Regions from separate parts of the Homo sapiens genome. Here region 2 is linked to region 1. Evidence: fine-mapped expression QTL. A gene starts in region 1. The other region holds a variant in brackets. All regions are shown on one strand. Distances are from middle to middle.

The links. PIP is the estimated chance that this variant, and not a neighbour inherited with it, causes the effect. A credible set is the group of variants that fine-mapping cannot tell apart.
Region 2: its variant is the best candidate, but not a certain one, in a credible set for the expression of ATP6V0D2 in monocytes (Quach 2016, PIP 0.72).

Annotation. Positions count from the first base shown.
Region 1 is chr8:86,096,136-86,101,671 of GRCh38, reverse strand. ATP6V0D2 (ATPase H+ transporting V0 subunit d2) reads right to left here and starts at 2,762. Exons shown (of 8, transcript NM_152565.1): 1 at 2,564-2,762. The coding sequence starts at 2,693.
Region 2 is chr8:86,147,949-86,152,948 of GRCh38, reverse strand. It overlaps ATP6V0D2 (ATPase H+ transporting V0 subunit d2), which reads right to left. Exons shown (of 8, transcript NM_152565.1): 6 at 2,661-2,837; 7 at 1,409-1,483; 8 at 1-133. Among named protein-coding and RNA genes, the nearest start is that of ATP6V0D2, 52 kb to the right of the region's middle. The variant A/C (reference allele first, on the strand shown) is at 2,143.

The DNA.
Region 1 (5,536 bases):
ACTGAAAATGAAGATACCAGATTCAGCTAACTGTCTATGTAGAGGATAGATCTGTTAATCTCATTTCTTCCTCCTTCTATCTATCCCCTTCCCTCGACAAGTCTTTTGATTAAAAGGGACCTTGGCAGAAAATATAGGGTACAATTTTTAAATTCCTGATTTTTATCTTTTTACTTTCTAGAATTCTTTTTTTTTTTTTTTTTTTTTTTCCTGAGACAGGGTCTCACTCTGTCGCCCAGGCTGGAGCACAGTGGTGCAGTTACAGCTCACTGCAGCTTCAACCTTTTGGGCTCAAGCCATCCTCCTGCCACAGCCTCCCAAGCAGCTGGGACTACAGGCATGCACCACCATGCCCAGCCAATTTTCAAAATTTTTAGTAGAGACGAGGTCTTGCTGTGTTGCTCAGGCTGGTCTTGAACTCCTGGCCTCAAGCAGTCCTCACACCTAGGCCTTTCAAAATGCTAGGATTACAGGCATGAGCCACTATACCCGACCTATTTTCTAGAATTCTTTTTTTTTTTTTTTGAGACAGAATTTCACTGTGTCACCCAGGCTGGAGTGCAGTGGCATGATCTCAGCTCACTGCAACCTCTGCCTCCCAGGTTCAAGAAATTCTCCTGCCTCAACCTCCTGAGTAGCTGGGATTACAGGTGTCTGCCACCACATCCAACTAACTTTTTCTATTTCTAGTAGACACGGGGTTTTACAGGCATGAGCCACCTCTCCAGGCCTAGAATTCTTTATATGGCTTTAGATATGGCTTCCCTTGATTTATCTCTGAATTCTTTTTTTTGTTTCCTTCTTTTTTTTTTTTGGTATCACAAAGATATTTTATGTATTCCTTGCATTTAAATTTGCATTCCTTAGCTCATTTAAGAGCTTGGCTGAAAACTAAATAGAATTCATTAAAATGTCTCCTCTCAGAAACACTTAGTCAGCCCTGTGTTCTTTATTTTATGTAGATTTTCTATACGTGACCGACGTTCTCCAGTCACCAAACTCTTATTTTAATATGCTGAAGTGACTTAGGATTTGGGGTTTTACTGTAATTATTTGTAGCCAACAGAATTAGTTATCTAAAAGGTTCTTGCTGTTTCCAATGCTAATGGAAGTGCAGGGTTTGTCGTAACTTGGGTGGTTCTGTCTGAACTCTGGCTTTAACTGGTCAGAACTATAAACAAGTGGCCTCAGGACCCTTCAGCCCTAATTGAGGAGACTGCAAAGTCACCTTTAGAAGGTTCATTGGTTCGTTTTTGCCTTTTAATACCCTTCCTAGGAGGCTTTATTCTTAGTGCTTTCTTGCCTTTTCTAGAATAATCTGGAAGCTTTAAACCACCTTATTATTGACCTATATGGGTTTTGTAAGTATGTTTCAAAATCAGTGAGTGTAGCTGTTTTTAATAATAAAAATACTGTTACAGACGTGGAATCTTTGGTAAGGTTTTGAAAAAAAAAATGTGGTTTAGAGACAATTTCCACTTGTTGAGTATTTATTTATTATAACTGAGAACACTGAGACTCAGAGGCTTGGAGCCACAGGTCACCTACTGGTGACATGACAGAAGTCAAATCCAGGACTTTTGAATCCAGGGCTGGCCCCACCAGTAACAGCTCTTGATTTTTTTTTTTTTTAACTTCAGTTAAAGGTAGACTTCAAACTCTCAAATCAATAGATACTGAGAAATGTGATAGAATAAAATTCTATAGAACAAGGTTTTAAATATATATATTTTTTCTTTGTCATAGATCCCTTGGCAGTTTGGTGAAGCCCTTCTCCAAATGTTTATAAATATGTAGAATGAAAATACACAGGATTATAAAGGAAACCAAATATTTTTAGATATAGTTGTCAAAATGTCTTTAAAATGTATAAGAATCTGGCAGGCATGATGGCTTACGCCTGTAATTCCAGCACTTTGGGAGGCCAAGGCAGTCGGATCACCTGAGGTCAGGAGTTCAAGACCAGCCTGGCCAACATGGTGAAAACCCGTCTCTCCAAAAAGTACAAAAATTAGTCGGGCCAGGTGGTGGGCACCTGTAATCTCAGTTACTCGGGAGGCTGAGGCAGGAGAATTGCTTGAACCCGGGAGGCGGAGGTTGTGGTGAGCCAAGATCACGCCACTATACTTCAGCCTATGCAACAAGAGTGAAACTCCATCTCAATAAATAAATAAATAATAAAGGATGAGTGTGGTATCTTACTTCAAAATAGAGAAAACATACATGACATTTCAAGGTATCTGCAAGAACTTTAAAGGGATATGAAAACATTGAATTTTTGTTGGTGACAGTGTCACAGATACTACTTATCTCAACTACTGTGATTTGTTGCCTACATTAGTAATGAAAGATGTTATAGTTCACTTAGAGATTAAAAATAGAGATTTATTTTTTTTTCCTCATTCAAGTTTATGGACCCCAGAAATCTGGACTGCAGGAATAAGGATCTGCTCAGAACTCTCAAACCATATGATTATGGGCTTTTTTTCTCCATGCTTCTGGAGAGGGACATCATTTCATTTTTTTTTTTTTCTTTTTAAAGGGTGAGAAGAGCTACACTTACCTTCTAGGGTCTCACACTGGACCAGGTTGATATAGTCTTGCTGGGTCAGGAGGCTGGCCTTGCATCCTCGAACCAGGCCCTCCAGGTAGCCATGGTCCACGTTGAAGTACAGCTCCGCACCTTCGAGCATGGGGGAAGAGATTGAAGCCAAGGTAGGGTGAAACAGCTCTGTAGTCCTGGACGGCCCCTGAAGATTTGCACTAGCCTGGGAAAAGTGCGAGTAATTATCAGGCAGCACAAGCAATCTATCAGGTGATAGTCAGGGTTTTTGTGACTAGTTTCCTCTGGTTTCAGTGGCTTTCAACACAGCACACTCAGCCCTGTTTATACAGCAACAATGAATCAGCCAGATGACCCAAGTAAACCCAGGCAACAAACCACGATTGGGAAAAAGAGATATGAGAGTCAGGGGAGGATCCAGGCTCAATTCTTACTCTCCCACAGATGGGACCCTTCCCAGCTTTACTATTGGGAGGCTTCAAACTCCTGAATGTTTTGTAAACATTCCTACCACCAGCTGAGCTTTCAACTGTAATTTACACTAATCCAAAATTCTTTGAGGACTATCAATATGAACAAAGAGAGGGTTTTTAATAAAAATAATTTAATTTAGGCTGGCATGATGGCTTACCTGTAATCCCAGCACTTGCGGAGGCTTAGCGGGGCAGATCACCTGAGGTGGAGACCAGCTTGGCCAGCACGGTGAAACCTCGTCTCTACCAAAAATACAAAAATTAGCCAGGCTTTGTGGTGCATGCCTGTAATCCCAGCTACTCGGGAGGCTGAGGCACGACAATCGATTGAACGTGGGAGGCGGAAGTTGCAGTAAGCTAAGATTGTGCCACTGCACTCCAGCCTGGAGGACAGAGTGAGACTCTGTCTCAAAATAATAATGATAATTATTATTATCATTATTATTATAATATAAGTAAATCAAATGTGACTAGGCAATTTGAAGAGTCATGAGAACCTAATTCTACCACACAGTTCATTTGTAAGACAAATGGTCAGAAATGCCCTAAAATTGCCAAAGGCTGGTAGTTGCTTCCCAGCCAGTCGAAGGGCATAGCCCAGGAAACAATCCTGGAAACAGATACAGAAGGCTATGATTCTATAATAATAAGCCACTACCTCTGCAAAATTGGACTGTTTAGAAGGCACTCTATTTTCTTTTTCCTACTTGAATCTCCTGTTTATTCTGCAATGTGAATCTGCACAGACAGTATTATTACTAAAATCACAAATAAGGAACCAGCCCTCAGAAGCTGTGAGGCAGCTCAAAATGCACAGCTGGCAATACAGTAAGTATTTAATGAAGCTGGGACTTGTGTTGAGTTTCATACTCCAAAAGGAGTGCTTGTTCTGCTATATATTGTATTTAGTTAAAAAATTATGTAAAATATCATGAATGCTATTTGCATATAAAGTGTTTCATATATATTGTGTCAAATCTTTAATTGGAACTAAAGTCCCAGAAATTCTCCAGTCTCTATCAGGGTTTTTCCGAACTGTTTGGGAGAAGCTAGATAAAAAGGAATCAATGTAAATTCTGCTTTGATTGTTGAAAATCACAGAGAATCAAACCTAGCTTTTCACAGTGCCCAGACTTTGAAAGTATTCAATAAATAGTAGAGGCTGCCATTATTGTTATCATTCTCTATCCACCCACCACAATTCCACCATCCTTAAACATCCTGAGTGTGTTTTATGTTGAATCAGTCACTTATTTATCACTTCTGTGGTCTAAAGATGGTTACATATCCACAGTTTTATAGAGTTCAAACTAATACAACTTAAATAAATTATAAATACCACACTTATCTTTTTTAAATTATTTTACTATGTTTTACTGTTATTTATGCACTTGAGGTTATTATGTCTATTGTATTTGTAAGGTAGATATTCTATATAATGACATGCTCTCATGCATCTCTTCTCAACTCCGGGTTTAATGACATAATGACGGTAGCTTGCAGCAGACCATGGCAGGAATGAAGTATTTATACCATGAAAATGGGCAAATGCTACAAATCAGGGCTTGATTCACTGTTTGGTTAATTGTCTGGACTTGAGAAAAAGATGGAGAAAATGTTAATAAAGCAAAGTAAAAGTATGTAATGTTTATAGCCATTATATTGTAAATTGCAAAAAAATTTGAAGAAATGTTCTTTCAGTATTTAAAAACTGTTATCTGATTCAGCAAGGAAGCCACTCCCTTTATGAAGATCAAGAGAAGTTTTACATATGTCTTCGTTGTTTCACTTTCATATTGTTCATTAATGTAAATAGAAATATTAGCCAACATTTATGTTGGATATTCACTTATTTGTCAATTCCAAGTATAGGTTGGGTACAGATAGAAGAATTGAACAAACAAAAAAATCAATGAAAGCATTCTGTGAAAATCAATTGACTATTGAATTGGAATTTACAATAAAGAGTATTTTTTTGGCTGGCTCACGCCTGTAATCTCAGCCCTTTGGGAGACTCAGGCAGGTGGATTGCTTAAGGCCAAGAGTTTGAGACCAGCCTAGGCAACATAGTGAGACCCAGTGTCCACAAAACATTTTTAAAAATTAACCAGGCATAGCGGTGTGCACTTGTGGTCCCAGCTACTTGGGAGGCTGAGGTGGGAGTATCACTTGAGCTGGCTAGGCGCACCTTGCAGTGAGTCGAGATCACACCATTGCATTCCAGCCTGGGTGACACAGTGAAAGCACATCTCAAAAAAAAGTATTATTTTACTGTTGCTTATAAATTGGTTGAGACACATTCTTTGCATCAGTAAAATTTAAAATAAACATGCCATACATTTTTATGGACAGCCAGTTGTTAAATGTGCACACCATAGCTTCTTCACAGTCTTGCCTAGAGCCAGTCCTGGACGTCAACATGCTCAAAAAAAAAAAAAAAAAGGAATTTTGCTGTTGTGTGTGCAAAACAACTTTCCAATTTGCCATATTTTACATTTAT
Region 2 (5,000 bases), 52 kb before region 1:
TAGTTCGATGCCTCTGTGAAATACATTCTGCTATCCACACAATATTTCTAATTTCCTGTTCCTTCAGCTTTACATATGCATAAAACACACCGTAGTGGAACTGTCTGTTGAATGCCAGCACATTCATTTGTACCTGAGGAAAGAAAAAAAGTAACACAGATCATCAACTTATTTGGAACATTATGGAATAATATTAAGCTACTGACTGGCTTGAACTTGTGCAGTGCTTATTTGTGTTTAAACAGGCAATCTCTAAATTGGGCCAAATAGAGGAGTATGGTGACAACTCAGAAAGTTCTAAAGAGAGAGTGTCACTCTGCAGATAAATGTAGACAACGGAAGTTATTAAAGTAAGTTTGTAGAATCACAAGAAAAGCTCCAAATTGAAATAGGAACGCTTTCACACTGTTAGTGGGAGTGTAAATTAGTTCAACCATTGTGGAAGATAGTGTGGCAATTCTTCAAGGATCTAGAACCAGAAATATCATTTGACCCAGCGATCCCATTACTGGGTATATACCTAAAAGATTATAAATCATCCTACTATAAAGACACCTGCACACATATGTTTATTGCAGCACTTTTCCCAATAGCAAAGACTTGGAACCAACCCAAATGCCCATCAGTGATAGCCTGGATAAAGAAAATGTGGCACATATATACCATGGAATACTATGCAGCCATAAAAAAGGATGAGTTCATGTCCTTTGCAGGGACATGGATAAAGCTGGAGACCATCATTCTCAGCAAACTAACACAGGAACAGAAAAACCAAACACCACATGTTTTCACTCATAAGGGGGAGTTGAACAATGAAAACATATGAGCACAGGGAGGGGAACATCACACACTGGGGCCTGTCGGTGGGGGGAATAGGGGAGGGATAGCATTAGGAGAAATACCTAAAGTAGATGATGGGTTGACGGGTGCAGCAACCCACCATGGCACACGTATACCTACATAACAAAACCTGCACATTCTGCACATGTATCTCAGAACTTAAAGTATAACACAATTTTTTTTTTAAAAAAGAAACATTATCTCATATGATTAACCAAAATTTTACACTAAAATTTGTAGCATTTGTAATAATGTTCTTCAGCAAATTCCATGAGGAATTGAATGTACTTCCATTACTTCTCGCAGTTTTTAAGTAAACTCTTTTAGGAGGGTATAAAAAAAAAAAAAAAAAAGAAAGAAAAGCTACAAACTTTAGCAGCACTGCTAGCACAAAGATTCCTAGGTCTGTGTGTAACTTTGTAGCAATAATACATCACTGACTATCAAGCTATGAATGTGCCTAATCAATTGGCATGATCAGCTGTAAAAAGAAAACCCAAAGTAAGAAAATATATAAAATCCACAGTAAGAGAAAAATAAGCTAATAGTATTTCCACTTATATCATACCTCACGCTCGTAAAACACGTCCTCCAATGTCTTTCCCCCACTGCCACCTACAGCTTCAAATAAAGGTTTGTATACCTTAAAAACAAAGACATTAATTTTAAAGACATTTTCATTTCTTATAAATGTATATAAATATATTTTTCCTAGCATTATAGAAATTGTGTACCTATTTAAAAAAAAATACCAGGAGGACTGAATGTTTTTTTATAGGATTTTGGCCTCCCGAAGAAACAATAAAAAAATCCAAATAACAAGAGTGTGGATGAAATTCTAGCCTATTGGCTTGTTCAGGGCTACAAGGCAATTCAACTCTCAGTATACAGTGTTTGAGCTCATTTTCTCACTCAGGTTCTTAGGGCTAGCTAGGTACATTATAGAAGCTCAGTGAATGTTCATGATTTGGTCAGTAAGGGTTCATGGTTCTTTGAGATGAAAATTGATAAAATTCACATGTAGTTTCCAGTGTGGAAGGGGTGGAATTTGGGAGAAATTCAAATTTTAATATTACGCTAAAGAGTCTCACGCAATTACATATGAGATGTCACAAGGGTTACGCATTTGCTGACTTTCATCTTTCCTGGAGTGCTTCAGAAATCTGGAGGAAAAGATGAGTGTCATTCTAGCCCTGGAAAAGTTACCTGGAGGTTATGTAAATGTGTGCAAGTGAGAGGGAATGGAAGCTGAGCCAAAGTGTACAACCTTAAGCTGAGGAGCTTCAGGCGCTCCAAGAGCAA[A/C]TGGATGCTGGAGTGGGGGAAGGACACAAGCAGCTATGTTTCCTCTCCTGATTTCTGGCCACTCAGCAAGGTGAGTGGAAAAACTAATACATCCATATTGTTCCTTGCCGTCCACCTAGACGTTCTGTGGCTAACCTTGTTTCCCTAGTGGGTACCTGAAAGGGCTGCTGGGTTAGACTATTTTACATAACGTTGATATGAGCTCACATTTCCAGAACACTGAACCAGTCTCCTGGGGGAACTTGCTTTATCAAACACTTCAAAAGGAGTGCTCAGATGACCATTCCTTGGAGATTTAAACAAGTACTTGCTTGGCAGGAACTTTAAAAATTAGCAGCTTGGGCTAGAAACTTAACGTGTTTCTTAGGGAGAGATTGCTTCAGCAAGAAACACTGATTGCTACCTTACAAATATTATTACTTCTTTTGAGTATAAGCGGAAATTTGATGTGTGAGCTTCTAAAGCACATGGAAATGAATGAACACAAAGGACTTAGGGAAGCCAGTGTCATCACATACTCCGTAATGATCCGCTACGTTCTTCATCTGGTCAAAGTCTTCTGCTTGAGCCAACAGCCGCAACCCCTCAGGATAGAGTTTGCCGAAGGTTGGATAGAGGGTCTCTCGGTCTTCTTTGCTCAATTCAGTGCCAAAGGAGTTAAGAGTGATGATAAAAGCACGTCTGTCGGCCTCAAACTGAATTTGCAAGACAAAACCAGTAAAATCTAATAAACTGCTAAATGCTATAAACAGACTCTTAAGTGCACACATTCATTTCTGAAATGATTCGCTTTCCTTTCTGGATCTATGTCTAATTATACTCCAGACATGTGTTATTAGTGTTCCCTTAGTCTTTTCTTGTAATGGAGTAACTCTGCTTGCCAGAGAAGGATCACACAGCAGCAATGATAACCTATGACTCCTGAAACCCCAGTAAGATTTATTTCCCGGGCACCCTGCAATGAATTCCTCATGTGTCTCTGTCACATTAGGCCGCTAGTGTCACAAGTGTCTCTTCTATAAAAAGGAGAATACCTATTTCTTAGGGTTCATTCAGGGGCAGAACCAGGTAACATAAGTGGAAGTGCTTAGCATGATGTTTGGAACAAAAAGTGTATGCCATACATGTTAATATCCCTTCCTAGTTGTCAATGTCAGCATAACTTTTTACATAATGAAATGTTGTGCTACCTACCATTTGTTTACACTTTTATGGCTTTGGTTTTCTTTGTTAGTGTCCTAGGTGAGGTATCAATAAATCTAAGACTGTAGCTAAGAACTATGTGGGTTAGGGCAAATCATCTTTCTCGCAAGAAGTTTTCTTCTTTGTAAGATGCTGGAATGTGGCTACATGATCTTCCAGGTAGGTCAACACATACTCACGGCCTGTCTTCTCTGTGCTGAACACCACTAGGCACCTGGGCTCGTATCCCTTCATCATTCCTGTTTCATCTGACCACTGAAGTCTTTCTTGAAATTTCGTTTCTATTCCTTTGAGCTCCATGTTTCTACAGTCTCTTGGTTCTCCTCCTCTGGCCATTCCATCTCAGTCTCTCCTTTAGGGGCTCCTCTGCCTATTGTGGGGGCTTGCCATGGTTTTCTTGGGCTACGCAGCTCTTCTCTAGGTACTCCAAATGCCCAGTAATTACCACTTCATTTTGAAATCTGTGCCTGCATTTCTCCCCACTACACTCTAAAATCTTTGAAGAACCATGTCTTTCTTGTTCATTGGTTTTTTTTTTTTTTTTTTTTCTTCCTTTGGAGATTGGGTCTCACTCTGTCATCCAGGCTGGAGTGCAGTGGTGGGGTCAGGACTCACTGCAGCCTCAACCTCCCACCTCAGCCTCCCAAGTGGCAGGGACTACAGGCATGTGACACCATGCCCAGGTAATTTTTCTTGTAGAGACGGGATTTTGCCATAATGCCCAGGTTGGTCTTGAACTCCTAGGCTCAAGAAAGCCTCTGTCCTGGGCCTTCTAAGGGTTAGGATTATAGGCATGAGCCACCACGCCCAGCCTTTTGTTCATTTTTGAATAGCCAGTGCCTGACACATAAGAAAGTCTTAAGTATTTACTGTATCCAACAGAGTGATGTGTGATCCTACTACTTTGAAATTCTCCAACATTCTCCATAATGTTGCTATTCAAAGCAATATTTTATGGCTCAGTAGATTTGACGTCACCTGGAAACTCATTAGAAGTGCAGAGTCTCAGGCCGCAGTCCAACCCTACTCAACCAGAATCTGCATTTTCATAGGATTCCCAGGCTATCTATATGCACGTGAAAGCTGAAAAGAATTGCTGTATGCTATCCTCTAATCAGCTTTTGACTGGTTAACCTATAACAAAACCCAACTTGCAACAGATTTCACTGGAAATCCTATGTAAGAACAGGTGTTTTCTATCAGGAGAGTGAGAGTTAGTTCCATCTGACCCTGTTGATTGCTCTCATGGAGATTATGTGTGAGCTGAAAAGTAGGGAGTGGCTTTATGTGGAAGCAAGGGCAGCTGTCTCTGGCTACTGAATATAACCAGTCCTGTCAGTAATTTTAGACCTTCTAGGGATAAGAGAAGAAATGGAAGAAGAAGATTTCGTGGCAATAAGAAAACTTAAAACAAAAATTAGGGCAACTAGAGCAACAATGGAGGTAATTGTCATAGATGTTCTTTAATGTGCTCTCAGATTCTAAAATGTCATGATCTTACGAAGAGAATTAGGGCAACGTAGGCAGCATTGCAGACTGGCAAACAGCAGAGTCCAGGCCAGAAGAGGGAGCTGCAGGAGACAAAGCAGGATGATTTGGAGGAATTGTCATGGCTCAATCATTGGGAAAGCAATTGGAGAAGTGGGAAGGACAGC